Linked DNA regions of Homo sapiens. The protein of the gene in region 6 purifies or fractionates together with the protein of the main gene of each other region. This does not show direct contact. Each region holds a gene or a part of one and is shown on either strand. Other genes may lie near its edges.

Region 1 (3,500 bases), on a different chromosome or scaffold from region 6:
AACCAGGGAAGGACAGATTGTTCAGAATGTGGAAGCAGAAGCAGAAAGGCTAAAGCGCCATTAGGGGGAAACTGAGGCCTGTAGGGGGGTCTCAACATTATTCAAAGGCATCAGAGACAAGATGGAGCAAGGGGTCACTGGCTTCGGGGGTGTGGTGGGGGGATGAGGAGGCAAAGAAGGAAAAGCCAGAGAGAAGTGAAAGGGGCAGAACTGGGGACAAAGGCTGGGCGTGGTGGCTCACTCCTGTAATCCCAGCACTTTGGGAGGCCAAGGCGAGCAGATCACTTGAGGCCAGGAGTTCAAGACCAGCCTGGCCAACATGGCAAAACCCCATCTCTATAAAAAATACAAAAATTAGCTGGGTGTAGTGGTGCACGTCTGTAATCCCAGCTACTCGGGAAGCTGAGGTGGGAGGATTGCTTGAGCATGGGAGGCAGAGGTTACAGTGAGCCAAGACTGCACCAGTGCACTCCAGCCTGGGTGACAGAGTGAGACGCTGTCAAAAAAAAAAAAAAAAAAAAAAGAAAGAAAGAAAGAAAAAGGGTAGAGGAGAGAAGAAAAGACCCAGGAAGAAGGGCCTGGAGGGAGACTTCAGTTTCAAGTGAATTCTGACAGAGGAACCCTGTGTCCCTTTTCCTAGGAGCAGGCAGATCTGGATTCAAAATCCATTTCCATCGCTTATAAGCTGTGTGACTTTGGGTGTTTTACTTAACCTCTCTGAGCTTTTTCTTTCTCTGTAAAAATAAGGAGCAATATCTGCAGTCACAGGGTTGTAGTGAGGAATAAATGAAATTCAGCCATAAAGCTTTGGCACGTAGTTGGGATCCTATAAAGATTGGGCCCCATGGGGGTGGAGAGCGATGAGGACATTGAACTTTGGAGGTAGGAATATGGTCAGACAGCAGAAAGAACGTCCAAACACAAACAGCAAAGGCAGGATGTCTGAGCTATACAAACAAGAGGGTCCTGGCTGGCTGGCGTGTGATGGAGGGTAAGTCTAGTCACACAGGAGGGGAAGAGGAGAAGCCTGCTCATGGCAAAACACAGAAAATTAGCAGAAAACTCCTGGGAGAGGGTTTTAGGTGGTGTGAAAAATGTGGTCTTTTTTGGCAGAGAATGAAGGCAGGGGCTTAATAGGTTTCCTTGTGGAAACGTTTTAAGGGTAGAGGGAAAGTCCGCTGGGGTCTCCGTCCCATAAAGTGGGCTTGTAAAGGCAGCCTGTTAATGCAGCTGGAGGTGGAGGAGGGGGAGACAGGGAAGGAGGGGAAAATGGAGGGGAGGGAGGAAGTGGAAGGGAGGATTCTCAAAGCCACCTCTCTGCCTGCCTCCCTTCCCTTCCAGAGATTCTGGAACTTCCCTCTCCTGGTGTCCTCCGCCCCACCTCCTGCTGAAGGTCCTTTGACTGAAGGGAAAGGGTTCCCATCATTTAGGTCCTGGGAGGAGAGTCCTGGGCTGGAGTCTAGGAAGCAAGAGAGGCAGATTTGGAGGTTCTGGGATAGCTGATGGTTGGCCACCCCCGCCCTGGAATGGAAACCCTGTTAGGCCAGGGCCAGAGCAGGTGGCCATGAAGCAAGACGGCAAAGGCATTGGAGGATGTCCCACCTCCACACATACGCCCAGGCATTTCTTGGCTGGGGAATGGTGTTACAGGATCCACAAGCACAGAGATGGGAAAACAGTGTGTCTGGGGAACACCAAGAGTTGGGGTTGCCTGGAGGACAGATAGACTCAGGGGGGACATCCAGAGGTAACACTAGGTCCGCAGGTGGGTTCAGAGGCCCCAGCTCTATCCCCTTATTCCCAGCCGGATTAAAGAATAATCTGAGTATGGTTCCCTCGAGCCCTCCAGGTGGGCATCGAGTGCCAGGTAGAAGGCAGGGAGTCAGGAAAAGGGCAGGGAGCCCACGGCCCAAAGGCAGCAACTGAGGACTGGGGGCACCGATCAGGGACCGAGACTCCTGACTCAAAAGCATGAGGGAATTCAGACCCTGGACAAGACTGGGGCCAAGGGGCCCAGACCCACCAGCCCAGGAAGATGAGATTCTCTCCCCTCCTGAAAGAAATCCCAGGCAGGGTCGAGCACGGTGGCTCACGCCTCTAATCCCAACACTTTGGGAGGCTAAGGCAGGTGGATCACTTGAGGCCAGAAGTTTGAGACCAGCCTGGTCCACATGGTAAAACCCCATCTCTACTACAAATACAAGAATTAGCCAGGCATGGTGGCATGCATGCACCCGTAGTCCCAGCTACTCAGGAGGCTGAGGCATGAGAATCACTTGAAACCAGGAGGTGGAGGTTGCAGTGAGTTGAGATCATGCCATTGCACTCCCAACCTGGGCAACAGAGCAAAACTCTGTTGAAGGAAGGAAGGAAGGAAGGAAAGGAAAGAAAGGAAAGAAAGGTAAAGAAAGAGAGAGAGAGAAAGGAAGGAAGGAAGGAAGGAAGGAAGGAAGGAAGGAAGGAAGGAAGGAAGGAAGAAATCCCAGGCAGGAATGGGCACAGCTCCCCGTCTCCCCTCCCCTCTGTCACCCCACAGTAAGGACGTCTTCATGGCGCTCTGACCCCCATCCCTGCTGCCTCGGGAAAACTCTGCTTCCTGGTCAAAGCTGGAGAAGAGTTGGCCTGTAGGGAGGAACAGCCACACCCCCAGGATCCCCCAAGGTCAGCCTTCAGGGCAGCCAGGATTTGATCCTCCTCTCCCTTCCCCCAAACACACCGGGGATAAGTGGCAGCCATTGATTTTGCAGTGCAGATGATATTTTTAGCTGGTCTTAGCATCAGCTACTCCTCCCTGCCCAGCCACACTCTTCTACCAAGCCTCTGCCTTCTCCAGAGCTGGGAATGGGCACCCCTTGGAGATCCCCCATGGGGTTCCCCTCCTCCCTCTGCACACTTCCCTTCTCCATTCTCAGCTTCTCGAATCTGGGAGAAGCGCCTCCTACACTGGGTCAGACCCACTTCTGATGACCTTACAGTGGTGGTCTTATAAGGCCTCTACTGGGCATGCTTCTCCCCAGCGCCCCTCCCTTTCACCCCTCTCCTCCCTCCCATTCTTCTCCCCTCCTCCTGCCCGCCACCCTCTACTCACTGTCCAGGCAGGGCTCACACACGGTCTGGTTGGCTCCACAAGGCTGGGCCACACCCTCGCCCAGGTTGCAGGCTTTGCAGCACTCACCGCTGTGTGTGTACAGGCCTGTGGGGCATGCCTCCTTGGCACCTCCAAGGGACACCTGGATGGAGGGAGATCGGAGGGTCAGACTGGCAAGAGAAAGCTGGGGTGGGTTGGGGGGGGTTCTTCCGGGGAATCAAACACCCTCCTCCCACTGCCTTCTATTAGAACCACCTGGGCTGGGATGAGCTCACCAGGGAGGCGTTAGGAACATCAAAGCTGACAGGGGAAAGGCAAGTGAGGGACAGTGTGCCCGTGCAGGCTGCTGGGGGTGTGAGGTCAGAGCTTCAGCTGCTGACCTTCTGCAAAGTTCATCCTGGGGTTACAGCAA
Region 2 (4,278 bases), on a different chromosome or scaffold from region 6:
TCCCTCTTTCTCTCTCTCACTCAAATACATACATGCACAAACACACACACACATGTGCACACACATCTTGGTGTGTTTAGAAAGTACCAAGGAGAAGGTGCTGTCTCGAGCATGTGGTTACCTGGTTGTGTTTATAGATAACAATAAGAGCTACCACTTATGAACATCTGGGCTGGGCACTTTACATGATCTCTTACTCGAACGAGAACAAGAAGTTGGGTCTTTTAAAAGCCATTTTACAGATGACAAAGTGAGACTCAGGGTGGCCAATCGACTTGCCTGAGCTTCCAGTTTATATGGATTGAAAAGTTGTGTGCTCTCCCCACCACCAGGCAGCTATAGTGAGTGTTCATCCGAGTGATGCTGTTTCTGTTAAAGAAAGAGATGGCTCGATGAGAAATACAGAACCCGGATACATCAGGGGAGTCTGCAGAGAAATTGTTAATATTTTTTTGGTGTCTGTATCACTTAAGGCAAATGACTGAATTTCAACCTATCCCCAAAGACTCCAGTTCTTTTCTATGGCTTATTGGGGGCCTCAAAAGTGTAGCTCTGGTTGTTGAGAGCGGCGTCATCCGAGGAGCAGAAACATCTGGCTTGTTGCATTATTCCCTGTGGGCGCTCCTAAGTCTCTTCTGTTAATCTTTTGAGTGACAGAGGCTTAAGGATTGGCATCTTTTCCAGCTGGCTTTCTAGGAAACCAAGAGCATGCCCTTTCAGTTTAACTTTATCTGGCTCACTAATTGAGCTCCCCCGAGGCCTAGACCCCAGTCCTCGCCCCCTTATTTGCTTCCTGCCTTCCTTCATAAAATTCTTGACATTTGTTTGACTCTGGAAACCAGCGGCTATCGAGTATCAGATTGGAGGCTATTATGTAGGAAGCACCTGATTTTGGGGTCTCTCAACTGTGAGTGGTTGCTTGGCTAGCTGGGACGTTGGTCAGGATTCTTTTAATCACTGAGGAGGCAGCCGTTTCTTTAATCCTGCACAATTTACTGAAAATGTTTCAGGGGAGGATGGGATGGGGGAGGGGCTCTCCCTGGCTGATGGTGTCTGGCCGATGGTCAAGCCAACTGCCTGTCTTTGTTAAATTCTGTGTCTCCCTTGAAGATGGAAAGCTGGGTGAAGGCAGGAACTGTTTCTGTCTTGTCCAGGGATTTATCTCCAGAGCTCAGCAAGGGGCCAGACACCTGTCAAGATTTACTTTGTTGGTACTGATGGAATGAACAAATAAATGCAGATAATGTGTGTTTGAGAGTGATTACAGGTTCCACTTTGACTGGAGGCAGGAACTAGATTTAAGAAGTGTGAGAAATAGGAGATGATGCGAAGATCAAGAGGTCTGAGTCAGAAATGGATTTTTATTTTTTAAATTTGACAGATAGCATTGTATGTATTTATTGTGCACAATATGATGTTTTGAAGTATATATACATTATGAAATAGTTAAATCTAGCTAATTAATGATAGCATTACCTCGCATAATTATTATTTTTGTGGTGAGAGCACTTAACATCCACTCTTTGCATTTTTCAAGGATACAATAACTTGTCATTAACTATAGTCACTTTGAATAGATCTCTTGAATTTATTACTCCTCTCTAACTATAATTATGTACCCTTTGACCAACCTCTCTCCTTTCCCTCTCCCCTCTTCCTTCCTCAGCCTCTGGTAACCACTGTTCTACTTTCTACTTCTATGAGACCAATTTTTTTAGATTCCACATATGAGTGAGATTATGCAGTATCTGTCCTTCTGTGGCTGGCTTACTTTTCTTAACGTCCTCCAGGTTCATCTACATTGTTGCAAATGACAGGACTTCATTCTTTTCTGTGGCTGAATAGTATTCCTTGTGTATATATACCATATTTTCTCTATCCATTCATCCACTGATAGACAATTAGGTTGATTTCATATCCTGGCTATTGTGAACAATGCTGCAATAAACATGGGAGAACAGGTATTTCTTCAACATACTGATTTCATTTCCTTTGGATAAATGTCCAGCAGTGAGATTGCTGGATCATATGCTAGTTCTGCTTTAAATTTTTTGAGGAATGTTTTTACTGTTTCTCATGATGGCTGTACTAATTTATGTTCCCACCAACAGTATGTGAGAACTCCCTTTTCTCCATATCCTTACCAGCACTTGTTGTTTTTTGTCTTTTTGATAATAGCCATTCTAACTGGAGTGAGGTGGTATCTCATTGTGGTTTGAATGCATTTCCCTGATGATTAGTGATGTTGAGCATTTTTTTTTTTTTTTTTTTTTTTTTTTTGAGACGGAGTCTCGCTCTGTCGCCCAGGCCGGACTGCGGACTGCAGTGGCGCAATCTTGGCTCACTGCAAGCTCCGCTTCCCGGGTTCACGCCATTCTCCTGCCTCAGCCTCCCGAGTAGCTGGGACTACAGGCGCCCGCCACCGCGCCCGGCTAATTTTTTGTATTTTTAGTAGAGACGGGGTTTCACCTTGTTAGCCAGGATGGTCTCGATCTCCCGACCTCATGATCCACCCGCCTCGGCCTCCCAAAGTGTTGGGACTACAGGCGTGAGCCACCGCGCCCGGCCGAGCATTTTTAAATATACCTATTGCCCATTTCTATGTCTTCTTTTGAGAAATACCTATTCAGATCTTTTGCCCATTTTTTCATTGCATTGTTTTTTGTTTTTTTTGCTATTAAGTGATTTGAGTTCTCTGTGTACTTTGCATATTAACTCCTTATCAGATATACAGTTTGTGAATATGTTCTCCCATTCTCTAGGTTATCTCTTTACTTGGTTAATTGTTTTCCTTGGTGTGTAGAAGCTTTTTAGTTTGGTATAATTTCATTTGTCTATTTTTGCTTTTGTTGCTTGTGCTTTTGAGGTCCCCAAACCAAAGTCATGGAGCTTTCCCCCTATGTTTTCTTTTAATAGTGTCATAGTTTTGGATCTTACATTTAAGTCTTTAATTCATTTGAGTCAATTTTTGTATATGGTGAGAGATGAGGGTCTAATTTCATTCTTCTGCATGTGGATATCCAGTTTTCCTAACACCATTTATTGAAGATTTTCCTTTCCCCATTGTGTGTTCTTGGTACCTTTGTTGAAATCAGTTGTCTGTAAATGCGTGGATTTATTTTTGGGCTCTGTCTTCTGTTCCATTGGTCTATGTGTCTGTTTTTATGCCATTACCATGCTGTCTTGGTTCTATAGCTTTGTAGTTTATTTTGAAGTCATATAGTGTGATGCCTCTGGCTTTGTTCTTGTTACTTTTTACTTTGCTTTGGCTATTCAGGGTCTTTTGTGGTTCTACAAAAATTTTAGGGTTTTTTTTTCTATTTCTATGAAGAACATCTTAGTATTTTTATAGGGATTGCACTGAATCTGTAGATTGCTTTGGGAAGTATAGACATTTTCACAACATTTGCTCTTCCAATTCATGAACGTGACATCTCTTTCCATTCATTTGTGTATTCTTCAACCTGAAACTTATTTCTTAAATGTTTTAGATATTTGTTATTTCTTCTCTCACCTCTTGATCACTTGATTCATCCTTCAAAACCCAGTTCCAACATTACTCTCTAGGAACTTTTCTACAGAGCATTCTTTTTGCTTAGGAACGATTACTCTCTCCTTCGAACAACTTCTTTTTTTTTTTTTTTAAGGAAAATTTGTATTATTTTAATTATTTTTATGTACAGAAAACTCAACAGTGTACATTTAACCCAGTTTAGTGGCAAGTTCTTTAGCCTTTGCCTTTTTGCGCTTGGCGATACGAGCCACAGACTTAGGACCCAGGACATTGCCACCCCAGTGACGGCGGATCTCATCGTATCTGTCATTGTAATTGGTCCTGATAGCTTCCACCAGCTTAGCCAAAGCGCCTTTGTCTTCTGAGTTCACCTGTGTGAAGGCGACAGTGGTGCAGGTCTTCCTGTGGACTAGACGTCCCAGTCTTGCCTTCCCCTTGATAATGCAGTAAGGGACCCCCATTTTACGACATAGGGCAGGCAAGAAGACAACCAGCTCGATGGGATCCATGTCGTGTGAAATCACCACCAGCTGAGCTTTCTTGTTCTCCACCAAGGTGGTGACAGTGTTAACTCCTGCTCGAAGGACAGGTGGTCTCTTCTTCGGGACGTCCCCTTTGCCAGCAGCTTTCTTCTCGGCCCGGGCCAACAGTCTCTGCTTCTTCTCTTGCTTTGTCTCTGGCCTGTACTTGTGGGCCAGCTTAAGCAGCTGAGTAGCTGTTTGGCGGTCCAGGGCCTGGGTGAACTGGTTAATCGCAGGAGGCAC
Region 3 (4,853 bases), on a different chromosome or scaffold from region 6:
AACCAGCTATGAAGCTACTGAACTGGACTACCACCCTACCTATAATTTTTGCTCACCATGTATCTGAAACACCACTCTCTTCTCATCAGACAGTCCAGAGGCCTTACCCCAAAAGAAAATTAAATAAATCTGGTGTAATTTGTCCTTACTGGACCCATTTGGACCCACAGAGTACCAGTTCCTGCCAGAAGTCACAGGCAATCCTCAGACAGCACCAGGTTCTCTATGATCTGGCCTCTGCTTACTTATTCCATTTCCTGCTTTACCCTCCCAAGATGCCACCTTCTTGTCTGTCTAGGCTTCTCTTATTGTGGGCACATAGCTTTGTTCTCTCATGCCTGGGCCTTTGTCCGAGCTGTTCCCTTTGATAGGAGTGCCATCACCCTGTGTCTCACTGGCTTCAACAGCCCTCAGATGTCACCTATAACTTGGCTTGACTGACCCACCTGAGGTGAGTCAGGTGTTCCTCCTGCATATTCCCACAGCACACTCTGCTTAGCCGTACTGTAGTCAAGTTATTTAAGGACAGAGAGAGAGTGCATGATCACTATGTCCCCAGATCCTGGTGGACAGTAGAGTTCATGAAGTATTTTTTCTGTGTTGAAAGAATAAACCACTTCCTCTCACAGTACTTACAAAGCCACTTCCAAGACAGCTTTGGATTTTATTTTAACCAGTGTGCTCCCATCCCCTCCATGTGCAAAGAGTCCCAAATTACCCATTTTTCCAGAGAAATTGATATTAAGGCCTAGAAGCTGCCCAAGATCAGGAAGCAGAAGACACCACTTCATTGTGAACCAGCTCATTTAACACAACTGACACCAATTCTCTAATTTACAGTAAGATGTCCTGGGGCACAAAGAAAAATCAAACAGGCTTCTGTCCCCCAGGACCCCAGCATGGAATGGGCAGACAGACTCCTGCGCAATTAGCAACGACAACCCATGATGAAGTGCAACAGGGTTCCAGGGAGTCCTGAAGGGGAAGCAGTGAATTCTGCCCCAGAGGGTGTGGGGACACAGCCTTCTTGGGGAAATAAGATTTCATGCAAGATGCTGGAGGACAATCAGCTTTGTCAGTGAGAGGACACGCACACTCTGCAAAGAGACCAGCATGAGAAGGGCAGCATATGGAACTATATGGGTGGGTTTAGAGGGTCCTGATGCCACTTGGGGGTTCTCAGATTTGGTCCTGCAGAAGCACAAGCATTAAGCCATCCTAACAGGAATCCGCATTCTTGTTGTGGGTAGAGTCCAAACCACCAAGGATGAACAGAGGCTCCCGTCAGAGGGCTGAGGAAAATCTAGAAAGCTGAAGGGCAGTGAGGCATTGCCAAGTGTCCTGCTCTGGATGACTCTTGGATGGGGCCAGAAGGGCCAGCTGGGAGGAAGGAGGCAGAGAGCTCCATGTTGCCACAATGCAGCAATTCTGCTGGGTGGAGGTCCTGCTCCTTCCCCAATGGTGAGAAATGTCCTGTCCTGTTGCCTGTTCCTAAGAAAACGGGGAGTGCCCTGCATATTCCCACAGCACACTCTGCTTACTCCTAGCCACACTGTATTCAAACGATCTAAGGACAGAGAGAGAACACATGGTCACTCATGGATACTGCCTGCCTAACTCTTCCACATCCTTCAATGCCTGGCTCAAACTCCACCTTCTCCATGAGGGCTTCTCTGGCTACTCTAGCCTCAGGATTCTCTTTTCTTGGCAAGCACTAAACTCTCAGTCTCAAACTGGTTTCTGGCATGCTTCAGTCTTCTTAACCCTGTATGGCCTGGGCTGTGGTTCTGCTACACAAGAAGCTTTAGCACTGCACTGGACCCTGTAAGTTTGTGATGCTTCTATCAGATGTTCCAGGCACTCCTGCCAACTGGGGTGCATGGAGAGTGGCCTAGCGGAATAGAGTCTTTGTCCTCCCACCCCGAAGCCCAGGATCTCTGCCTGTGGGAATATCACGTGTGAGGGACTTGAAAATCTTCACGAGTCATGTAGTTAAAATGACAGTTGTTGAGGGAGGAAAAAAAAAAGCAACTGTAAACACATATGACACTCTAGTCAATGATATGCACGATGACGTATTTAGTGAGGTGTCCTGATGTCTGCAATTTATTTGGAGATGCATCAAAATGTAGGCTGGATTCGTGGATGTCTAGAACAGTGCGTGATAGTTATGTGACACAGCAAGTATAGCAGCAGTTAATGGCAGAATGTAGGTGGTGGGTATACAGATGACCACTATAAAATTCTTGCTGTACATCTGAACATTTTCAAAATAAAGTATTGGGGAAACCACACACACAATAAACAAAAAGACTGTTGTTAAAAGTTCCCCGTTCTGTCAGCAAATCTCCAGCGGACCTAGTGTTCTGTCTCTGCCAGGACTGTCTCCTATCGACCTGGGGGTGGTTTGGCTTAGATGTTACTTCCAGGAAGCCCTCCCAGGGCCGCAAAGACAGGGTGAAGCGCCCCTCCTCTGCATGCACCGTACTTCCTCAGCTCAGCACGGACTTCCCTGTACTGTGAGGGCTCTACCCCAGCAGGAACTACAGCACCACGTCTGCTACACAGAGAGCCCTCAACCAACCTCTGTGAATGCCATCGCCCAGCCTCTCTGTCCTCTGTCACCCGGGCGCCTAGCCAACAGCCAGGACCATGGCAGATGCTCAGCGACCCTGGACCTCCCGGTGAGATCCGCGGCCAGTCCTGCCCAGGCCTCTTTTCCGTCCTAGGTGGCCCTCTTCACATGCCATGCCCCGGCCCCATCAGGACCTTCCCTGCCGCGTCCCCTTCGGCGCCTCTCCTCCACCCAGCTCCTTTTCCGAGGACCCCTCCCTCACCCAGCCGCCCTCCTATACCCCACCTAGCTGAGAACTGAGAACCCTTTACCCGCCGGCCCTCCCCAGCTGGGAACCCCACCGCGTCCTTCCCGCACCGATTTTGCCCGGCGGGGCATCTCCGCCAGCAGCGGCGGCGGCGAGGAGCGCGGTCAACGCGGCGAGCAGCGGGGCTGCGCGGGCCATGGCGGGCGGCGAGCGGGCAGCACGCCGGATTCAGGCGCTAGCGGGTTGGCGCTCGGCTCTCCGCCCCGCCCCGGCGCCCCACTGGCAGTCCCGCCTTCCTGCCGCGCCAGACCCAGCTCCGCATTGGCCAAGCCGCCGTCCCTCTCCAGCACGAGGCCCTCATTAGCTCCATCTCTCTCGGGGTAGGCTCTCTCATTGGCAGCTTCCCCGTTCCGCCCCGCCCCCCGCATGCGGGCTCCTCATTGGCTGGGTTCATTCTTGCCCGGCGCAGGTGTGCCCGCTTCGGGTCCTCAGCATCAGGACCAGGGCCCAGCTGCGGCAGAGGGATGAAACAGACCAAAGTGAAGCTTTGAAGACCTCGGTTATGTCCAGCCTCTGCGTTATTAGCTCTGTATCTTCTCTGTGTCTGTTTCCTCTATTATAACACAGACGAAGAATCCTGCTCCACCTTTCTAGGTGGTTGTAACCATCTTATGAGATAAGGGAAGCCTTTTGCAGTGTCTGCAAGTGCTGGAAATTGCTGACCAAGCATGCGGCCAGGGTGGTAAGACGCTACCTCATTCATATGCTGACACAAGCCCTATGCTTTCTATACTGCTGTTATTTATGTGTTTGCAGTTTTTATATAGTTAATATCTCTGCTTTCTGCTTCCTAAAAACCAAAAGGCGGGGGAAGGTTTCATCTACTCTCTTTTCAGAAAGGAGAAAAGGAGGGATAAACTCCCATTTTCATCCTCTAAGAAGACAAGAGCAGCAGCTCAGACTTGCTAGTTTATCACGCTGTGAAAAACAGACTTCCTCTGGCAGAAAATAAAGTTAGGGATGAGTTTCAGAATAAAGAAAATCCGGAGGCTGGGGGTGGCTCAAGCCTGTAATCCCAGCATTTTGGAAGGTCAGGCGGGAGGATCGCTTAGGCCAGCAGTTTGAGACCAGCCTGGGCAACATAATGAGACTCTGAGACCCCGTCTCTTAAAAAAAAAAAATTCGCCAGGAGTGGTGGTGCACACCTGTAGTCCTAGCTATTCAGGAGGCAGAGGTGGGAGGCTTGAGACCGGTAGTTTGAGGTTACAGTGTTCTATGATTGTGCCACTGCACTCCAGCCTGAGTGACAAGAGTCCCTGTCTTTAAAAATAAATAAATATATAAAAATAAATGAAATCCATATTTACTCAGTGAGATTATGGCTAAAATAAGAAACTGGGCCGGGCACAGTGGCTCATGCCTGTAATCCCAGCAGTTTGGGAGGCCGAGGTGGGCAGATCACTTGAGGTCAGGAGTTCGAGACCAGCTCGGCCATCATGGTGAAACCTCATCTCTGCTAAAATGCAAAAATTAGCTGGGCTTGGTGGTGTGCGCCTGTAATCCCAGCTACTCGGGAGGCTGGGGCAGGAGAATCGCTTGAACCTGGGAGGCACATGTTGCAGTGAGCCGAGATTGTACCACTGCACTCCACCGTGGGTGACAGAGCGAGACTCTGACTCAAACAAAAACAAAAACAAAAAACTGAAGTGATTCAGAGAATGGTGAAAGAGCTTATAGCTGGGGTTCTAACTCAGCACTGAGACTTAATTTACTTGGGCCAAACTGGATTACTACTAGTAAACTGGTAGATGAATAATCATGCATTTGTCATAATCTTAAACTTTTTTTTTTGGCAATGTTTGTGTCAGGATGCAACACCTTTTAAGTTCATTTCCAAAGGTTCAAGATACTCCCTTAAACAGTTTTTAAAACAAGCACTCATTGACCACTATGTGCCAAATTCTCTTATGAACTTATTCTGATTCTTGTCATTTTTTTGTAGGGTAAATCATGTTAGTGTTCAAATTCATC
Region 4 (4,094 bases), on a different chromosome or scaffold from region 6:
AACTTTTGAGGAAACTTCATACTGGTTTCCGCAATGGCTGTACAGGTGGTATTAGGTTTTCTGTTTCTGATTTTGTTGGCTTAGCATAATGGCCTCCAGTTTGATCCACTTTGCTACAAAAGACATGATCTAATTTTTTTATAGCTGTGTAGAATTCATGGCGTATATTTATCACATTTTTAAAATCCACTCTACTATTGATGGGCTTTTGGGTTGATTCTATGCCTTTGCTATAGTGAACACGGCTGCGATAAATATACACATGCATGTGTCTTTATGGTAGAATGATTTATATTCCTTTGGGTATATACCCAATAGTGAGACTGCTGGGTCAAATAATAGTTCTGTTTTAATGATGATGTACTGCTGCTAATAGACTACTATCAAATGAGTAGTAATGATATGTCAGAAATTGTGTCAACTGAATTCCTGATATTAATTCCATTTTATGCCTAAGATAAGTTAGTGATATAAATATTATTTTCCACATTTTAAAATGAAGAGATTAAAATTCTGATTGATTTGTTCTTCAAATCAATCAAACACTAATTAAGGAAAATAAAAGGGGTTTAAAATGATATAAAAATAATCATTGTTATGGCCCAAAATTCAGATAACAATAATTGTGAAATCCTGGTCCTGGGGATCAGAGAAAGGTAGAACAAAATCCAAATAATCATATAATATTACTAATAAAGCAGATTCTAAAAGAAACAAAAGATCCATTCACAAATATATATGCATAGATACTTTATTCAGGGAGTGAAAGATAAATGACAATTGCAAAGGTGGTAGAAGCTCATGACCAGGTGACAGACAGACACAGAACACATCAACAGAATTGTCTGATGGTTCCCAGGGAGAGAGCTGCTGCTCTTTCTTCCGAAGCTCTGGGAGCTGGCACAGCTGAGGACTTCCTTTTCTTAGCTCCACCTGGACAGTGGCAGTATGGCAGCCTCAGAAAGGGAATCTTTTGCTGTCACAGATCATCACAGGCAGGCCACAGGTTAAGGAGAAAGAAGCTCCCTGTGCATCCATGGAAGGCTTTGGTGAGAAGATGCAAGTGGAGCTGTGGAACGAGGTGAGCCAATTATCCTTATCCTCTCATGCTCCTGATGAATCCTGAAGCTGTTACTTGCTCTTGGGTGGACACTTTGGCTGGCAGGGTGGGGAAGGTGTCACAGGAGGATATTTCTGCTGGCACTGCTGAGGTGGGCAGGGCTGTGGACACTTTGGTGATGGGCAGGGCTCAGGGCACTTCGGGGGTGGACATGGCTCTGGGCACTTTGGCGTGGGGCACACAGGAGGTGGCTGGCAGGGCTGCTTGCACTGCTGCTGTTGATAAGACATCCTGCTGGAGTCTCAGGATCTGAAAGAAATGATACAACAGTGTTTGTGGGAAGGGACTCCTCCAGAGAGAGAAGCTAATGCTTATGTAATACCATGAAATATTATTTCCCCATCTCCAAGAAATTATTTAAACTCTTAACTGCCTTTTCAAGACTACTTCGTTTCTCCCTTCCACTTTAGCAAATTGCTTCATTGGCCCTGGGAAATCTTGTGTTTTCTCATACAATTTTTCCAAAGAAAATATCTCTGTAGTAATGAACCAAGCATGTTATTTCTGTGAAAATAACATCTTTAGGAAAGGCAGTGACAAGTTCAGATACCATGAGCAATCTCACAAGCCATTTCTCTTATCATTATCTGTAGTAAAGTCCCAGTGGGTTGACTTGAGCACAGAACAAAGGGCTGTTTGGGAAGGATTGCAGGCTCTTGGCACCTGTTAAGACACAAACCTTTGAAAAAGACACCAGGAAAACATGGGGAAAAAATACTTTGTTCTTTTTTCTTCTTCAATTCAAAGCTTTCCTATTAACTTCTCTGTCCGTATGGACACCTAACTGTATACAAGAAACAAGCTAAAATAGCATATCACTGTACTCTAAATCTAAATTTCCATCTACTAAGTAGAATCAAACCCATGGTTACAGAATTGTATCAACCAAACTTGCTGTTTTCAGATTAAATTCAATATTTCAGGTCACAAAGAACTGAGGAACTCAAGGACTCACACTCACCAGGTTCTCCAAAGCAGATCGGTGCTAGAGTACCAGGAGTTTAAGAGTTGTGCAGCAGGGAACCTCTTTATAGGACGTTCTGCCCCACCCAGTGGGAAGTGGAACTGCCTAAAACTGGGCTGGTCCAGCAATGTCCAAAGTAAAATGCAAATGTATCCATATCTGGCATGAGAGGCATTCTCAAACTAGGAAATATCCTGTTCTGGGATCTCCCCACTGGGTTAAGTGCTCATGAGTCACAGAGAACCTGCCTTAGATCTCAGTTTCAGTGACTTTCGTCAGAGAGATAATTGGAGGGATTCTCTAACCGGTTGTCAAGGGCTCTCTTTCTTGATTGGGAACAATGATCCCTTCCTATCTTACCTCCCCTGAGTCATAAAACTTCCTGTCCTGATCCACTCTAGCTGAATGCCATATTGTTGTACATGAACCCAACTCTACCTCTACTTTCCTCATACAGTTGGCCAATGTGCTAGAAGGAAGGAGAGACTTAACAAAGGCCTGAGCTAAGCTTTTTCTTTGCTAAGTTCCATGACAACAGGCATGTCACCTCTCCTCCCTGGGATTATAAACAGGGGACAATAATACTTACCTCTGGGTTTGCAGGCTGACCACATTGTGCTATCTGCTGACCCTGTTCAAGACTGAAATTTTCTTTGCCACCTTTTTCTCAGATAAAACCTCAGATTTTTACCTATATTCCTTTCCTCTTTGAAGCTGTCTTCTGCACCACATTTGTAGCTTCTGCACCACATTCGTAGAGGCACTTGCATCCCAGGACAGATTTGAGAGTGAGATCTAGTCTCCACAGCACGTTTGCTACTTGGTGCCATCAAGGATGTGTACTACAGCCTTTTTATTTATAAAAAGTAATGGAGAGAAGGAAACTAAAGTTACAAGTATTGACTCAAAATCTATGTATGGAACCATGCATATATGGTTCCCTGTGAACATCCTATAGAGAACAAGCTGCATAGACATTATCATATGTAAATAATTAGAAGTAGGTGTGCAGAGTGAGGAAGGTAAGAGCACTTAAAGTTTAACTCAAGGGGAAAATACAAACAAAGGGTAATCCAATATGTATTCTTCCTCTCTATTTCCAAACAGGTTTTAGATGTTTCTCAGTGTTTTTTAATTTGTTTGCATGTTCTTCCTTTGTCTTTTCCATAAACCTTCTAGTCCCACAAACTGCTAGATTATCAACTCATACCCAATGTATACCTGTCATCTGTCCATTTTGGTACATATTGTTCACTTAACACATATGTTGTCAATGCATTTAGTGATTGTCCTTTCACAACTTTTTTAAATGCTTCCTACAATCAGTGAGCCTTTCTAAGTACTGTATATTAAACATTTAAAGTGATGTTGCTACTGCTTCCTTATCTGGACCATTAATCGGGAAGCTTCCCAAGAACATGGTTTTATAAGTGAATAAGAAGAAAGGAGAATGAGGAAGAGGAAAGACTCAAAATCACTGGAGCAGTCACCAACTGTGCTCCAGGAAGGGCAGAGTGTTGAATCAAGCCAGCATCACATCCCTCAGTTAAGTAGGTTAGGTTCCCAGAACAGCTGTTGCTCCTGTCAGTAAGGAAGAGCTTTTAGCCAAGATCACCACTGGCCAGGACACTACAGAAATAGAGCCATCATGTCAGCACCCTGAGGCCAGGTGATTACAAATGGTGTTCTCACCAAATGCTTCCTATAGACTATTACACATGCCACGCACTTCACCAGCCAAAGTAAAAGTCCTTTACTCAATAAATCACCCACTACTCCCCAAGAGCCTCACATCACATCTAAAACATAAATCCATAGAGAAATGTCTAATTTCTGCCATGCAAAATTGAAGAATTCGCTGCCAAATGAGATCACTGTGTGAGATAACACAGTTTGGGTCACAACCTGAGACTCCCCTTCTTAGGACACCCCACTCAAACAGGCTGCTTATCACAGCAGTGCAGGCACCAGAGTGGCAGCAGACCTAGTGCCCCCAGCATCTCAGACAGG
Region 5 (4,190 bases), on a different chromosome or scaffold from region 6:
TGCAGAACAACTTGCTTTGTCTCCCAGTTACATACAAGAGCAACCTATTTTTCCATCAATATAAAAATATATGCATATATATATGAATACACTGTTGATAACTCTATCTTGTTTAATTTGACTTGAAACATGTTGATACTACAGGGAGAGGGGTGAGGGTGGGTTTTACAGTTCTCACTTCCATGGTTCCCACCTATGTGAAAGAAACAGTCTCCAAACTGGATCAGCTTTTGTGCATTACTCTGTGAGGACTCCAGATCTTGTGTGTGTGGTTGTATATGTGTGTATGTGTGTTTGAATGAGGGGTGGGGTAGGGAGTGAAGTATATCCCTCCAGGGCACTGTAAATGCCCCTGGCAAGCACCTTAAATCCCCTTTGTTCTGTTTCAGGTCCAGAGTTGGCACTCAGAAACTAGAAATGACTAACTGAGATAAAGAACGGAGTCTGTGCATCTTTGGAGGTGTTTGGAAATCTAGGTTGTAGATATCAGAGAAATGAGTGAGAAGGAGCAGGTTAGCATATGTAGGAACAACATTACTTGAAATAAACAGGAATTGGCTGGTAAGTTAGCAGTCTAAAAGCCAGATTTGGAGAGAAGGCAATCAGGATTAGTGAGTCAGAGTCAGCTTAGACAAGTGCTAACTAAACTCTAGCATGACTCACTGAGTTGCAAGAGGAGAGCCCTTTTCCAGCCCTGGATGCCCAAAGCAACAGCCTCTAGGTGGCATTACACAACCTCCCATAGGCAGCCCAGGAATGCTTGTGGGGGCAGCCCTTCACCCTCCTAATGTGAGCATCAGATGCCTTCTGGACAAAGCCCTTCTTCACCAACTCATCTCTGTGTACAGCTCCCGCTTCACGAGGGAAAGGAATGAAGTTGTAGAGTCAATGACACACAGTCAAGAGTGGAATTGAAAGTGAATTTAATGGGGGTATAAGGGAGCTGAATCATTTGCTTTCATCTTAAGTCTCTCTTCAGATGAATTCTGAGCAGCTGAAAACTAGCTCTGGTACTAAGACCTTCAGCTTCATTCAGAGACTCAGAGTGTGTAGGAAAGAAAGCTTCATAGCACATTCTTTTTTGGGGGAGACAGAATGCTAATTGCAAGGCAAATGGGACTCATACGCAGAATGGGATAGGGGATTCAGCATCTGGTGGCCGGCTCCTCAAGGGCATGGCTGTGGACCACATTACTTCTGCTTGGTCTTCTGCTGGGCTGGTGCTGGAGTGACTATTGAAGGGCAGGGCTCAGGCACCTTGGGGTGGCATGGCTCTGGAACCTTGGGCTGGCAGGGCTCGGGCACTTTGGGGTGGCAGGGCTCAGGCACCTTGGGGTGGCAGGGCTCCTTGGTTTTGGGGATGCATGGTTCCTGAGGTGGAGGCTGGCAAGGCTGTTTCACCTGCTGCTGCTGAAGCTGAGGGGGTGGGGTGCAAGGCTGCTTCTGCTGCTGGGAACTCATGCTGCAACAGTGACTGGTCCTGGACACAGAACAGATGATTTAAGCAGAGAATAATAGGGAAGAAGCCATGGTGAATACCACTTCTGGTCTCTTAAAAAGCTATGTTCTTTCCCCTTCTTGACCACAAAGAATACTTAATTTAATTTCTGAGCCTTTGAAGAAGAGGAACCTAAAGATGATTTGCTCTTGCTCCACTGGAGCAGGGCCTCTCCTGGTGCTCTCTTTCTTCCTACACAGCACAATAACAGGCTTCTAGCAGGAATATGAGACTCATAATACTGGACCATTGGAAATGTGAGGTTCTTTGGAAAAAAAAAACCCTAACAAATTAAATCTACTCACTCATTTCTGATAAATAGCATGGCTTATCATCTATTGTATAACTCTGACCTCTCTAGAACCCCAAGCAATCCCACCTGTGGCCTGGCTCAAGTTCTCCTCTGTCTTAAATGTTTTCCTTGTTCCTACTCATTCAAGCACTAACCAAACTCCACAGATCGCTTCATATGGGACTTTTAGTGGCTTCTCTAGAAAAAACCTTCCAGAAATCTCTCTATTCCCAAACTGTCACAGAACTTGCCCTAATCACCTGGCACTGATAAGTTACTGTTATACAATGCATTTTAGCTCTTATTTCCTGATTAAATTGTAGTATCATAGATGCTTAAATTATTTCTTTGCAAACAAATTGCCAAATATAGTAAGCTCTCACAAAAGTATCTGTTGAAAGAATAAAATTCTCTGTATTAAAATTATAAATAAGAAGGAATTATAATGCCAGGGTAAGTGCTGTGGACCTGGGTTCTAGTCATTATCCCATTACAAACTTACTATGGATCCTTGAATAAACCAACCCCCTTCTTGCTGACACAGAAAGAGTGAATGAAGAACTGATAATGTCTAAATTCTCTTCAAGCCTACAGTATGAACACTTTTAAAATGAAGATATTCCTAGAGGTTATAATTCAGTTGAACAGTCTGCATGGCTATGATCAAATTCAATAATGAGGGAAAAAAATACCAAGAATGCCAAGGAGACTCTAATAAAAATTAAATACCTAGAATGGATGCTAAAGAGTTCCAAGTAAAGAGACTCACCTGGTGTGAAGAGAGGAATACTCTGTATGGTCCCTTAGAACTGGTGTAGTGTTCCCAGCCAACTGGCTTTTTATGCATGGAACAAGCCCTGCCTCAAGGAAACAGGATCCATCTGGGCTGCTGTGCCTACATTCCTTACCTGTCAGATGTGATTCACCCCTCTTCCCTCACCCACCTGTTGACTCAACTTTTGTGATGAAACTTGTGGCACTTGCTGTCTGACAAGGATGTCACCTGGGCTTTATCCCCCTGAACACCCTTTGCTCCCAGGTGTAGTGTTTACAGGAAGGGTGGTGTGGGCTGAAAGAGAGAGAAGGAAGACATTCTGGGGCTGCTGGAACCAGAAACTGTCCTATCTTCTGGAAGAGTCTAATCCTCAGCACAGGTGACACTTGTAGGGCTGTTTAATATATGAAGTGGATGTAGAGATAAACAATAGGTATTTCTGGTTATTCTGGGAGGCCAAGGGCATGGTGGCTAGGTGAAAAATAGTAATATTCTGTTAATCCATCACTCAGTATACTCGTGCCTGGCAGGGGAAAGGAAAAACTAAAATGATTATTTCGGTTCTAAAAAGCCTTTTCTCCAAGGAGGAACTCAGGGTAAACAACATAGGGGCAGGCTGACCTCAGTCTGTGAAGGAGAGTTCGGAGCAGTGAAACTCTGGGAAGAATGGTCACGTTCGGAAGCTCTGGAGCAACCTGGCCCTTTTAGTCCATCCATTTATTCTGTACATTGTGACAGTAGGCCCTGAAGACCCTGGCTATCATGGGGAATCCCTTCTCTGCAGCCAACATGGGAAGGAACAAAGGAGCTGGGATTCCCTGAGCCCTTATATCAAAGTTCACTCTCCTCAAGATAAGATGAAACTTAGGTCACTAATCCAGGTCTACCTGCAGTACACAACCTGTTGCAAGTGTGGTTTTTGGAAAATCCAAACTATCCTTCAAATCCAGGTGTCGGATGGTCCCTCCCTCATTATTTTCACTCATCTAAATGTTTGTAGAGCAACTGCTGGCTGCACAGCTGTGTCACCTCTCATGAACTTGAGCCCAGGACCAGCCAGCTACCACCAGAAGTTCCTCTGCTTAGCCATTGTTCTACCTTCCATCTTCACGTGATGCCTGGTGTGTAGTAGCTGCTCAGAGAATTGACAATTATAGAATAACTGAATGAATGGAAGGATGGAGAGATGGGTGGATGATGTTATTCGTGAAGAGACGCCAGAGGCTGTTTTGAGAATTATCAGGAAATTTTTTTATAGGGGAAATCCTTCCTTGTGGCAGGCCTCATGGTATAAGCTGAGAAAAGCTGTAAGAGCTTAGCAAGAGACAGATATTTCTGTCATTTTATCCATTATGATTTGGCTGTTGCCCCACCCAACTCTCAGTTTGAATTCCCACGTGTTGTGGGAGGGACCCGGTGGGAAGTAATTGAATCATGGGGGAAGGTCTTTCCAGTGCTGTTCTCATGATAGTGAATACGTCTCAAGGTATCTGATGGTTTTGGAAAAGGAGGAGTTCTCCTGTACAAGCTCTCTGTTTGCCTACTGCCATCCATATAAGATGTGATGTGCTTCTCCTTGCCTTCTGCCATGATTGTGAGGCCTCTCCAGCCATGTGGAACTGTAA
Region 6 (4,278 bases):
TTCTCTGTGCTTCGGGAGTGGTAGCCTGCTCTGCATAAAGGGAACTATGAACACAGTGGTTCTGGCATATAGAAAGTATTCATAAAAGGTTGGCAATAATAATTTTTATCCTGGAGAGCCTAGGTTACAGTAAATGGAGGGAGAGCAGTACAATCCACACCACATAACGCTAAGTCAGAGAATGAAATTGGTGGAGTCCATGCCCAACTGGGAAAAGCAGAGGCACGGGGGCAGGGTCCAACCTTGGAGTGACATTGGTCCCCAGCTTGTGTGTTAGGGAGTGAAAGGTCAGAGGCTGCTGCCCTGGCCTGGGGCTCAGGTCTTGGCAGACACACTGAGGGGAGGCAACTGGAGAAGGAGGCAAGGCAAAAGGACTGAGGTTTTCCTTCCACATCTGAAAGCAGCAAGTGAACACTAAAATCCAAGGGATAGAGCAAATTACAGACTTCTGGCAGATCTAAGAAAAAGCCTTGATATCTTCTTGTTGGTTTCTTGTGATAATTTTTTTTCAAGAGAAATATGGCAATACATTTACATTTACTTTTTAAAAAAGTATCCCATCCTGGAACTGTAGATCTACCTCCCAGACTTATCTGGAGCCTGGGGTGGGAGCTGGAGCTCCCCATAACAAGGGTGGCCTCCCATCTGCTCCTTGGCTTTCCAAGAGCACAGAGAAGAAACAGGCAGGCAAAATTCTAGGATTTACAATCCCAAAGATCTCCATTTAAAGTAGCCATCTCAGATCCTTTTTGGAAGCAGACAGGGTGTAAATGAATGCACAAAAATGCAGATTTATGTAGAGCATAACAAAAATGTTAGAGGCCACACATAATGAAGAGTGTGTCTATGTTAGAATATCTCATTCATTTCAGTGTTGAGTGTCAACACTCAAAGTCTGATGAATAAATGAATGAATCAACAAAAATACTGAAAGAAAACTCAGCATCTCAAGTCAGGATGAAAAAGACCATTGGTTTCATAAATCAGATCAAGTAACAAGAGAAATAACTACGAGCATCTATCAAGGGCTTACTGTGTGCCGTGTTGTGCTCTGGGCTTTGCAGATATCATCTCATTTAATGCCCCCACCAACCTAATGAGGGATGTACCCTTATTACTCTTTACAGAAAAGGAAACTGAGGTTCAAACAGCTGAAGTAATTGGTCAAGATCACACAGCTCCTAAGCAGAGAGCTGAGTAAGGCAGGCTGAGGGCAGGGCTAATGCTGGAGCCCACTCTCTTGGCCACCAGGCACTTGTGCATCTCAGCAGTGCCCCCTTTTATGGCACAAAAATCGTGGATCTGGTTGTTGCTGTGGAACCAGGGATTCAATGAAGGTAGAGACAGGAACACTACTCAGCTGAATCTGGAACATCCACCCTCTAGGACCCATCCTGGTGCAAAAGAGGTGCCAAGACCCTCTGCAATGCTGCCTACTGGTGTGTACTGCACAACACCAAGTTTACTCTGGGATCCACATACATCACAGCACTTGGACACTAGATAGGAAGGGGTAGGAAAGGCCATCTCCCAGGTGGCCTTAACACACCAACAGATCAGCTAAGATGGAGGAAATTTGTTCCGTGATTTTTTATTTTTCTTAAAAATTTGGGCACATAGTCCGGGTGCGGTGGCTCACGCCTGTAATCCCAGCACTTCGGGAGGCCAAAGTGGGCAGATCACGAGGTCAGGAGATCGAGACTATTCTGCCCAACACAGTGAAACCCACTCTCTACTAAAAATACAAAAAATTAGCCGGGTGTGGTGGGGGGCACCTGTAGTCCCAGCTACTCGGGAGGCTGAGGCAGGAGAATGGCGTGAACCCAGAAGGTGGAGCTCGCAGTGAGCCGAGATCGCACCACTGCACTCCAGCCTGGGTGACAGAGCAAGACTCCATCTCAAAAAAAAAAAAAAAAAAAAGATTTGGGCACACAGTAGGTACATATTTATGAGGTACATGAGATATTTTGTTACAGGCATGTAATATGTAATAACCACAGCAGGGTAAATGGGGTATCCATCACCTGAAGCGTTTATCCTTTATGTTACAAGTGATTCAATTATACTCTTTTAGTTATTTTTAAACTACAATCAAATTATTGTTGACTATTGTCATTTTGTTGTGCTATCAAATACTAGTTCTTACTCATTCTTACTCATTCTTTCTAATTTTTTGTACCCATTCATGCCTTTTATTAAGTGTTCAAATATTTGAGGATACAAATCATCCTCTCACATATTGTTGGTCACTGGTGCAGAAGTTTGACTCTGTGTGGGTTTCTTTAATAAAGTTACAAACCCAGGAGTGATTCTGAAACACTGGCCACCATGGCTACCTTCCCCAATTCAGAGATTCCTAAATAAGTGGTGGGAGCCAGTAGAACTCAGAGTGGATGGGGGGATAGTAACAAAGCAGCCCCAGGAGGTTAGAGGGATACATGGAATATTGCAGAGTACTCCATCTTTCCTGGGACACTTCTGTCTTAATGCTAGACAGCCTTGGTGTGAGAAGAGGCCCTTCAAATGTCCCTGGCAGAATCATTGGGTCCCTGTTCACTCAGTGATCAAACATCTCCAGAAAACAGAACCCTAGCATCCCCCCAAGAGTAGCCAGTGGGTCATGAATAAGCATCCCCAAAGGGTGCCGCAGAGAAGCTACTGCTATTGCAATTCAATAACTTTTCCAGGAAAGCAGGCAGAACAGAACTTCACAAGACAGATGTTTGAGCGCCCTGAAGCCCCCAAACTCGGATTCTTGACTTCCTGACAGGCAGTCAGCCTGGGTGGGCAAAGGCACAGGCCTGTGCTCGACAACTCATTAGCCATGTAACTTGGGCAATAATGCCTCTGTACCTCAGCTTCCCCTCCATGAATGGGGATAAAATGATAGCCAGCTGCTACAGACTGAATGCTTGTGTTCCCTCAAAATGTATATGTTGAAATCTTCACCCCAAGGTAATGTTATTTGGAGGTGGGGACTTTGGGAGGTGATTAGGTCATGAGGATATAACCTATGAATGAGTTAGTGCCCTTATAAATGTGGCCCCAGAGAGCTCCCTCATCCCTTTCACTGTGTGAGCTTAGAGTGAGAACACCACTATCTATGAACCAAGAAACAGGTGCTTACCAGACAGCAAATCTGCTGGGGCCCTGATCTTGGACTTCCAAGGCTCTAGATCTGTGAGAAATAAATTCTGTCATTTATAAGCAACCCAACCTATAACAGTTTGTTATGGCAGCCCAAATGGCTACCAGCTGAAAGGACTGTTGGGAACATTAAATGAGCTGGTATGAGTACCAATGTAGATAGCACTTGACATCTACTGAATATTCAGATACACTGTTGCTGCTTTTGGTGTTATTGTTGCTACTGTTGCTAATTTAAACTCAACACAGAAGTCCTTTTTGGTCAGAACAGACATTGGTGGACCAAGTGAGCCCGTGGTTTCAAAGACTGTAGATTTTTCCCAATCTTGGACTTACATCGGCTTCCTAGGACTCCTTCTGGCAAAAAGGAAGGTTGGGATAAAACATTTTATTCTGCTTTGGTTGATCGCCAAATCCACTTGGCTAAAAGGATTTGCAGTTCAGAGAACTCGGTGGCTCAGCGTAAAGCAGAGCTCCTTTCTTCTGAAATCCATCACCTGTGACTTCTCTGACATCAGAAAGAGGCACCTTGTGAGTCAGCTGGTGGCAAGATTGCTCAGGATTCTGTTTCTGGGCCAGTCCCAATGGCCCTACTGTCAGTCCTGACGCTCCACACACTGATTACAGAGGTATGAGCAAAGATGATCCCCAGCCACACTGCAGGCCAAGGAGCACATCTCACACCCTCCCAACACAGTGATTCACGCGTGGCAGGCTCCAGGGCAGCCACAGAGGTGTGGGTCACTTCATGCTGTTCAGCTGCAAGGCGGAATGTCAGCTGACAGCCTCCAGCTGCAGCTTTCTTGGGATCTGCTGCAGGATTCCAGCTGAGGCTGTGCTCTTCCCAGACAGCTCCAGCCAATACCTGACCCTGGCAGAGGACAGCTATTTCTGCCCAGTGATCTCTGTTGAGTTGACTGAGACTTTAATCAGATCTGCATAGAGTCAGAGGCTCTCTCTGTCCCATCCAACTTCCCCATTTGTCTTTCACAGGCAATACCCGCCCCCAACAATTCTCTCACACTCCTATCTCTGTCCTAGCATCTGCTTCCTAAAGGATGCAAACTGACACAAGCCCCCAGTGAATGTGCATTGATCTCTCAGGCTGGGGTGGGCCTTGAACAAGGCGTG
Region 7 (4,795 bases), on a different chromosome or scaffold from region 6:
ACTGGCCTTGGGCCCCTGGCCTCCATCCATGCAGGAGGGGTTTGTCACTACTCCCTGACGGTCCTCTTGGGCTCAGGCACCCAAACGCTAGGGCTCAGCACCCAGCCGGGGGCCGTGGCATAGCACATCTGCCCAGATGTTTTCAGGAGATCTGAGTGGGAGCCATGGGGCCAGCCAAGAGGGCAGGGAGCCCCGGATTTGCAGAAGCAGCTGAGGAAAGAGCTGGCATTGCTCAGACTCGCCAGTGTTAGCCAGCCGATATCGGTCAAGGCTGCCCCGCTCGAGGGTCCATTATCCCCTTTCCCCGGCCTCAGCTGTGCACTCCAGGCCATAACAGCACAAGACCTTTCCACAACCCCAGGGTAAGGGTCAGATGTGGGGTTTCCAAAAGCTTCAAAACTTACCCCTCTATCCAGCTCTATCCAGAAGGACACCAGGGGACAGAGAGATGGACACGGAGGCCTCAAAACAGGAAAATAAGGAGACCCCTCCCCATTGTTGATTACTTGGGGTTACCTACAGAAAGAGATGAACTGAAGGGGCTGAGCCTATCTGAGGATTAAAGCACAGCTTTTGTCAGGAGTCCGTGCCTCCGGTCTTTGTTCCAGCGACCTGAGGAATGGCATGCATCAGAAGCCGCTTCCGTGTCTCAGATGGGGCCTGGGTCAAGTCCTGGGAGTTGATGGAGCGTTTCCCAAATCGCAAAAGGAGAGGAGCTAGACTTACCTCCCCCTCCTGGGAAGTAATGCGCGACAAGAATTTAAACTCTTAAAACGATTAGCAGCAAAGGTCTCATGTGCTTTTTTTTAATTATCATTTTTTAATCGAGGTATAATTTATGCATTTAAAAAATCAGATCAATTGCCCCCCGGGCTCTGGGATGGAAGGCGGTGTGCGCCTGCGAAGGTCAGAGGCCCAGCGGCGCCAGGGCTCCTCGGCGGAGAGCCGCCCGGGTCCGGCGCTTTGCTTTCGCCTTCTGCCCCACCGCGGGCGAAGCCCCAGGGCCCCGGGGAGACTCCAGGCCGGCTGGGCCGGGGTGCGCCCGCCGGCTGTCCGCGCTCGGGCAGGGTGGGGCGCAGCGGGCGTCTGTCCTGCTAGCGGGGATCGGGCGGCTGGACCCAAGAGCAGGGCACGTGCGCAGCGACGCGGGGCGGCCCCGCCAGGAGCCCCGACCCGGGCGCGGCGCAGGGCCCGGCGGAGAGCGCGCATTCCCGAGCGCCGCGAGCCGGCCGAAGTCGGGCGAGCGCGCCGTGCGGCGGCTGGGAGTGGGCTGCATGTGCCGCGCGGGGAGCCCGCCCGACTTCGGGGAGGCAGCGGGGCGCCGTGGCCCCGCGGCTCAGCTCCCTGCCGGGTCGGGTGTCCCAGCCCTGCGACTTCCGGGGCCCGGCGGCTCCTCGGGGAGCTCGTCCACAGGCAGCCTCCGGGGCGAGAGAGCGCGCGGCGCGGGCGCCGGGACGGTCCGCGGCACGCGGGTGGAGCCGCCGGCGCTCGGGCTCCCGCAGGGGCGGCGGGCGGGGCGGGGTGAGGCGGGCCGGCCGCCCTCCCCTCTCCTCCCTCCCGCAGCCCGCCCTCCCTTCCTCCGGTCCCGCAGCCAATTAGGCGGCCCCCTCGGGCGGGAGGCGTGGGGCGCTGCATAAAGCGGCGGGGAGCTGCCACCCCGGGAGCGGGCTGCGCAGTGTCCGGGCCGAGCCGGTGCGCCGCAGACTAGGGCGCCTCGGGCCAGGGAGCGCGGAGGAGCCATGGCCACCGCTAACGGGGCCGTGGAAAACGGGCAGCCGGACAGGAAGCCGCCGGCCCTGCCGCGCCCCATCCGCAACCTGGAGGTCAAGTTCACCAAGGTGAGGCGGGCGCCCCTCCCACCCGACGGCCGCGGGCCCCTGCGCTGGGCAGCCAGACTCGGGGCGGCGGGGGCGAGGGAGCAGCGGGCCGGGGGTCCGCCGGGCGCCGCCGAGACCCGAGCCTCCCTGCCCGGGCGCGGCTCTCCAGAAACCGCACCTTTCGCGGGACGTCTCGGGCGGGATCGCAGGCGGCGGGGCTCGGCGCTGTGAGCCTCGAAGCCGGGAAACCGAGGCCGTCCAGCGCCCGCGCGGGGCCGGGCCGCCCGCATCCCTGCGAGGCCCCGACGTGTCCCTGCGCTGCCCGCTTTGATCGCGAGTGGAGGTGCGCGCCGCGTTGACTCGGAGCGCGCTGGTTTTGGGGAGCTCCCTCCCCAAAAACCCCTGCGATGATTTCCAGGGTGGACGAGTCTGGCTTTGAGAGGGTCGGAGGGTCCGAGAGCGCCAAGAGAGAGTCCGGGAGGCAGATGGCGGAGCTGCAGTTGGAAGACTGGGGAAGCGGGTCCTCCGAGCAAAGCGCAGCGGGCGCCTTCCGTGCTTAGTTTATACCCGGCTCAGCAGCAGAACGAGGAGGAGTAGGAAGGTGCTCGCTTACTGACGAAACCTCCCCGGAGCCCAGAGGTCCCGGTGTTTACACACAAGGCGCGCGCTCCGGAAGGTCGCAGACCTGGGCCTTTGGGAAGCGGTGGGTCGCGAGGCCGCAGAAGCGCACGGTTCTCTGCCTCCTCGCTCTGTGGGCTGGGAGGCTACAGCGTTGGCAGAACGGCGAGATTACCTGCCCGGGGCAGAAAGGAATAAAAGAAGATGGTGAGGCCTCCGAGGCCTCTGAGCTGGGGCTGAGGAGGGCCGAGAGACCCGGGTCCGGGAGCGCGACCCGATGGAGGACACCCCCAGGCTGTCTGGCGTGCGCGTCTGTCGTGGGCCGGTGCTGGGGCACTTTAGAGGCACAGGCCAGGCCGAGAGCCATTGCCTTAACTTTCCCCACCTTTGGCTTCTCTTGATTTTTGCTTTTACCCATAGCCCCCAACTCCAGCTGACACCGCACTTAGAGAATTTCCTCATCCGTTTTACTTTAAGAAGTAGCAATTATCTTTCTCAAAGAATTTTAATCAAGCGGAGAAAGTTGCAGGGCACTATGTGTGGCCTTCAGATTTGGGTCTCTTGGCACTTAATTCCCAATGTCGGCTGAGCCTCTGATCACAAGACATTTAAATTAACTGTTTTCAGAAGGCTCTGTAATCAACAAAGACACGTCGCTGTAAACTAAACGCTGGAAATTATTCTTAATGTAGTTTTATTTGTAATATCAGCTTCAGAGTGAAAATTCCAACACGAATTCTGGGAAGAGTGAAAATGGTACCCGAATTTTGTAAGACCCTAACCCCAGGTGCTTGGCTGCTGCTACTGATGGTTAAGTGGGGAGGTTGTTTGTTTTCTTTTGGTTGTACAGGATTTCAAAATACTGTATATAGAAACCAGACAGTAAATGTATTATGGTCCTTTTACTTTTTATGTTTTTGAGTCCTATCAGCAATCTGACCACATACAAAAAGTTTACCTCTTTCTCTATGATTTTTAGGACACTTTTAAAGTGTAGATGTAGCCCTTATGGAGACCTTAGACAATTCACAGAGCAATGGTTGCCTGTTGTCTTGGTGGGTGCGCAACCTTTGCCAGTTAAAGGGAACCAGTGCAGGAATGAGGCTGAGGGAAGCTGGTGGATCGGCCTGGAGTGCTGGGATCTTGAGTGGTCTCCCAGGCGATAAAGGCCCCAACTGCCTGACACCGGCTGCTGGCTCCTCACCCGTTGGGGGACTGTGCTGCTGCCTGCTCTGTCCTGGCTCCTGGCCCATCTCTGCAGAGACCTCCCCATAGCAGTTGTGGACCCAGGCAGCTTGTGTGGCTGAGGGTGGCCAACCAGTGCCCTGGCACAGTCCTCAGGGAGACTGGACTGGAGAGGCGGCCGAGAGTGAGGCCACCAAGAGTGCCTGCCGAGGGAAGGAGCGGGATAAACTGAAGTGCAGGACTGAGGCCCAGAGTGGGCGAGTGGCCCGGCAGGTGGGTGGCCTGGCAGGAGAGCAGACGGTGGAGCATGGGAGCCAGCAGTGGTCTGCTATTTTCCAAAATTGACTCATGGTGCTTCTCGATAATGGGGCACACACCAGAGTTGGTCCATCTGAGCCCTAGCCCCGGCAGTGCCATTTCCCAGGGTGGTCCAACTTTCAGGATGACTTTGTCAAAGCCCCTTCATTTGTCCTCACATGTTAACATTTCATTCTCTAGGGTCATGCTGTGTGATTCTGGAGAGCTGAGAGCCCCTCCAGGGTCCCCACACAGATCTCAGAGGATAGAAGTCCCTTCTAATTTAGAGGGCCTCTTTCTTTCCTTATAAAATTTCTTCCAGTAGCAGGGATTCTCTTCAAAGTTTTCTGATTTTTAAAACACCGGTTTTTATTATCTCTCTTATGAAAAATAAAATTCCCCCAAATCTCCTTTTCTGAAAACATATTCTTTTTGAGTTTAGCTGAGTGGCCTGTTGTCAGATGGAAGTTACGGGAAATCGGCATCAATAGGATTCACTTGTATGACTGTCATCTTCACCTCTGCCTGAGACACCTTACAGCTCCGTCCTGCTTCCATGTCATTCTGTTCCTTTTGTAAAATGTGAACCAGGTCTACAGCTCAATGTAGCTTAATGCTATACCTCTATAAGGTTTGTTGTATGCTAATCCACAAATCAAAGACAACAATTCCTTCTAGACCCTTTACCCTGATTTGGAGTTCAAAACAATACAGCCAGCATAATCAGTAGACCATATTTATATACCCTTTCCTTATATTTGTGCTTTTGTTTTGTTTTAATGGAGAGAAAAATCAACAGTAGAAACCACTTACAAGATTACTTACTACTGTAGTGTGGTATAAAGTAAAAGATTTTACAAAATTAAAAACATAGTGAT

Evidence for each region.
Region 1: the proteins of ITGA9 (region 6) and NGFR purify together in Homo sapiens (affinity purification with western blotting; one study listed by BioGRID). This does not show direct contact.
Region 2: the proteins of ITGA9 (region 6) and SMOC1 purify together in Homo sapiens (affinity purification with mass spectrometry, with the first as the bait; one large-scale study listed by BioGRID). This does not show direct contact.
Region 3: the proteins of ITGA9 (region 6) and PCYOX1L purify together in Homo sapiens (affinity purification with mass spectrometry, with the first as the bait; one large-scale study listed by BioGRID). This does not show direct contact.
Region 4: the proteins of ITGA9 (region 6) and SPRR2D purify together in Homo sapiens (affinity purification with mass spectrometry; one large-scale study listed by BioGRID and IntAct). This does not show direct contact.
Region 5: the proteins of ITGA9 (region 6) and SPRR1B purify together in Homo sapiens (affinity purification with mass spectrometry; 2 studies listed by BioGRID and IntAct, with this or other methods). This does not show direct contact.
Region 7: the proteins of ITGA9 (region 6) and ALDH1A3 purify together in Homo sapiens (affinity purification with mass spectrometry; 2 studies listed by BioGRID and IntAct, with this or other methods). This does not show direct contact.

Annotation. Positions count from the first base shown.
Region 1 is NC_000017.11:49,501,793-49,505,292, reverse strand, and holds part of NGFR (tumor necrosis factor receptor superfamily member 16 precursor), read right to left. Parts: intron 3,231-3,500; coding exon 3,089-3,230; intron 1-3,088. UniProt on the Homo sapiens protein: Low affinity receptor which can bind to NGF, BDNF, NTF3, and NTF4. Forms a heterodimeric receptor with SORCS2 that binds the precursor forms of NGF, BDNF and NTF3 with high affinity, and has much lower affinity for mature NGF and BDNF.
Region 2 is NC_000014.9:69,881,638-69,885,915, forward strand, and holds part of SMOC1 (SPARC-related modular calcium-binding protein 1 isoform 1 precursor), read left to right. Parts: intron 1-3,644; exon of another isoform or gene 3,645-4,278. UniProt on the Homo sapiens protein: Plays essential roles in both eye and limb development. Probable regulator of osteoblast differentiation.
Region 3 is NC_000005.10:149,356,236-149,361,088, reverse strand, and holds the start of PCYOX1L (prenylcysteine oxidase 1-like isoform 1 precursor), read right to left. Parts: upstream 3,044-4,853; 5' UTR 3,021-3,043; coding exon 2,933-3,020; coding exon of another isoform or gene 2,917-2,932; intron 1-2,916. UniProt on the Homo sapiens protein: Likely to have oxidoreductase activity. Required in the mevalonate pathway to regulate prenylation and enhances the bactericidal activity of neutrophils.
Region 4 is NC_000001.11:153,038,997-153,043,090, forward strand, and holds SPRR2D (small proline-rich protein 2D), read right to left. Parts: upstream 2,125-4,094; 5' UTR 2,082-2,124; exon of another isoform or gene 2,076-2,081; intron 1,370-2,075; 5' UTR 1,351-1,369; coding exon 1,132-1,350; 3' UTR 736-1,131; downstream 1-735. UniProt on the Homo sapiens protein: Cross-linked envelope protein of keratinocytes. It is a keratinocyte protein that first appears in the cell cytosol, but ultimately becomes cross-linked to membrane proteins by transglutaminase.
Region 5 is NC_000001.11:153,029,617-153,033,806, reverse strand, and holds SPRR1B (cornifin-B), read right to left. Parts: upstream 2,605-4,190; 5' UTR 2,560-2,604; intron 1,481-2,559; 5' UTR 1,462-1,480; coding exon 1,192-1,461; 3' UTR 907-1,191; downstream 1-906. UniProt on the Homo sapiens protein: Cross-linked envelope protein of keratinocytes. It is a keratinocyte protein that first appears in the cell cytosol, but ultimately becomes cross-linked to membrane proteins by transglutaminase.
Region 6 is NC_000003.12:37,458,230-37,462,507, reverse strand, and holds part of ITGA9 (integrin alpha-9 precursor), read right to left. Parts: intron 1-4,278. UniProt on the Homo sapiens protein: Integrin alpha-9/beta-1 (ITGA9:ITGB1) is a receptor for VCAM1, cytotactin and osteopontin. It recognizes the sequence A-E-I-D-G-I-E-L in cytotactin. ITGA9:ITGB1 may play a crucial role in SVEP1/polydom-mediated myoblast cell adhesion.
Region 7 is NC_000015.10:100,878,169-100,882,963, forward strand, and holds the start of ALDH1A3 (retinaldehyde dehydrogenase 3), read left to right. Parts: upstream 1-1,662; 5' UTR 1,663-1,739; coding exon 1,740-1,838; intron 1,839-4,795. Other genes in the region: collagen alpha-1(I) chain-like, read right to left, coding at 853-1,635. UniProt on the Homo sapiens protein: Catalyzes the NAD-dependent oxidation of aldehyde substrates, such as all-trans-retinal and all-trans-13,14-dihydroretinal, to their corresponding carboxylic acids, all-trans-retinoate and all-trans-13,14-dihydroretinoate, respectively.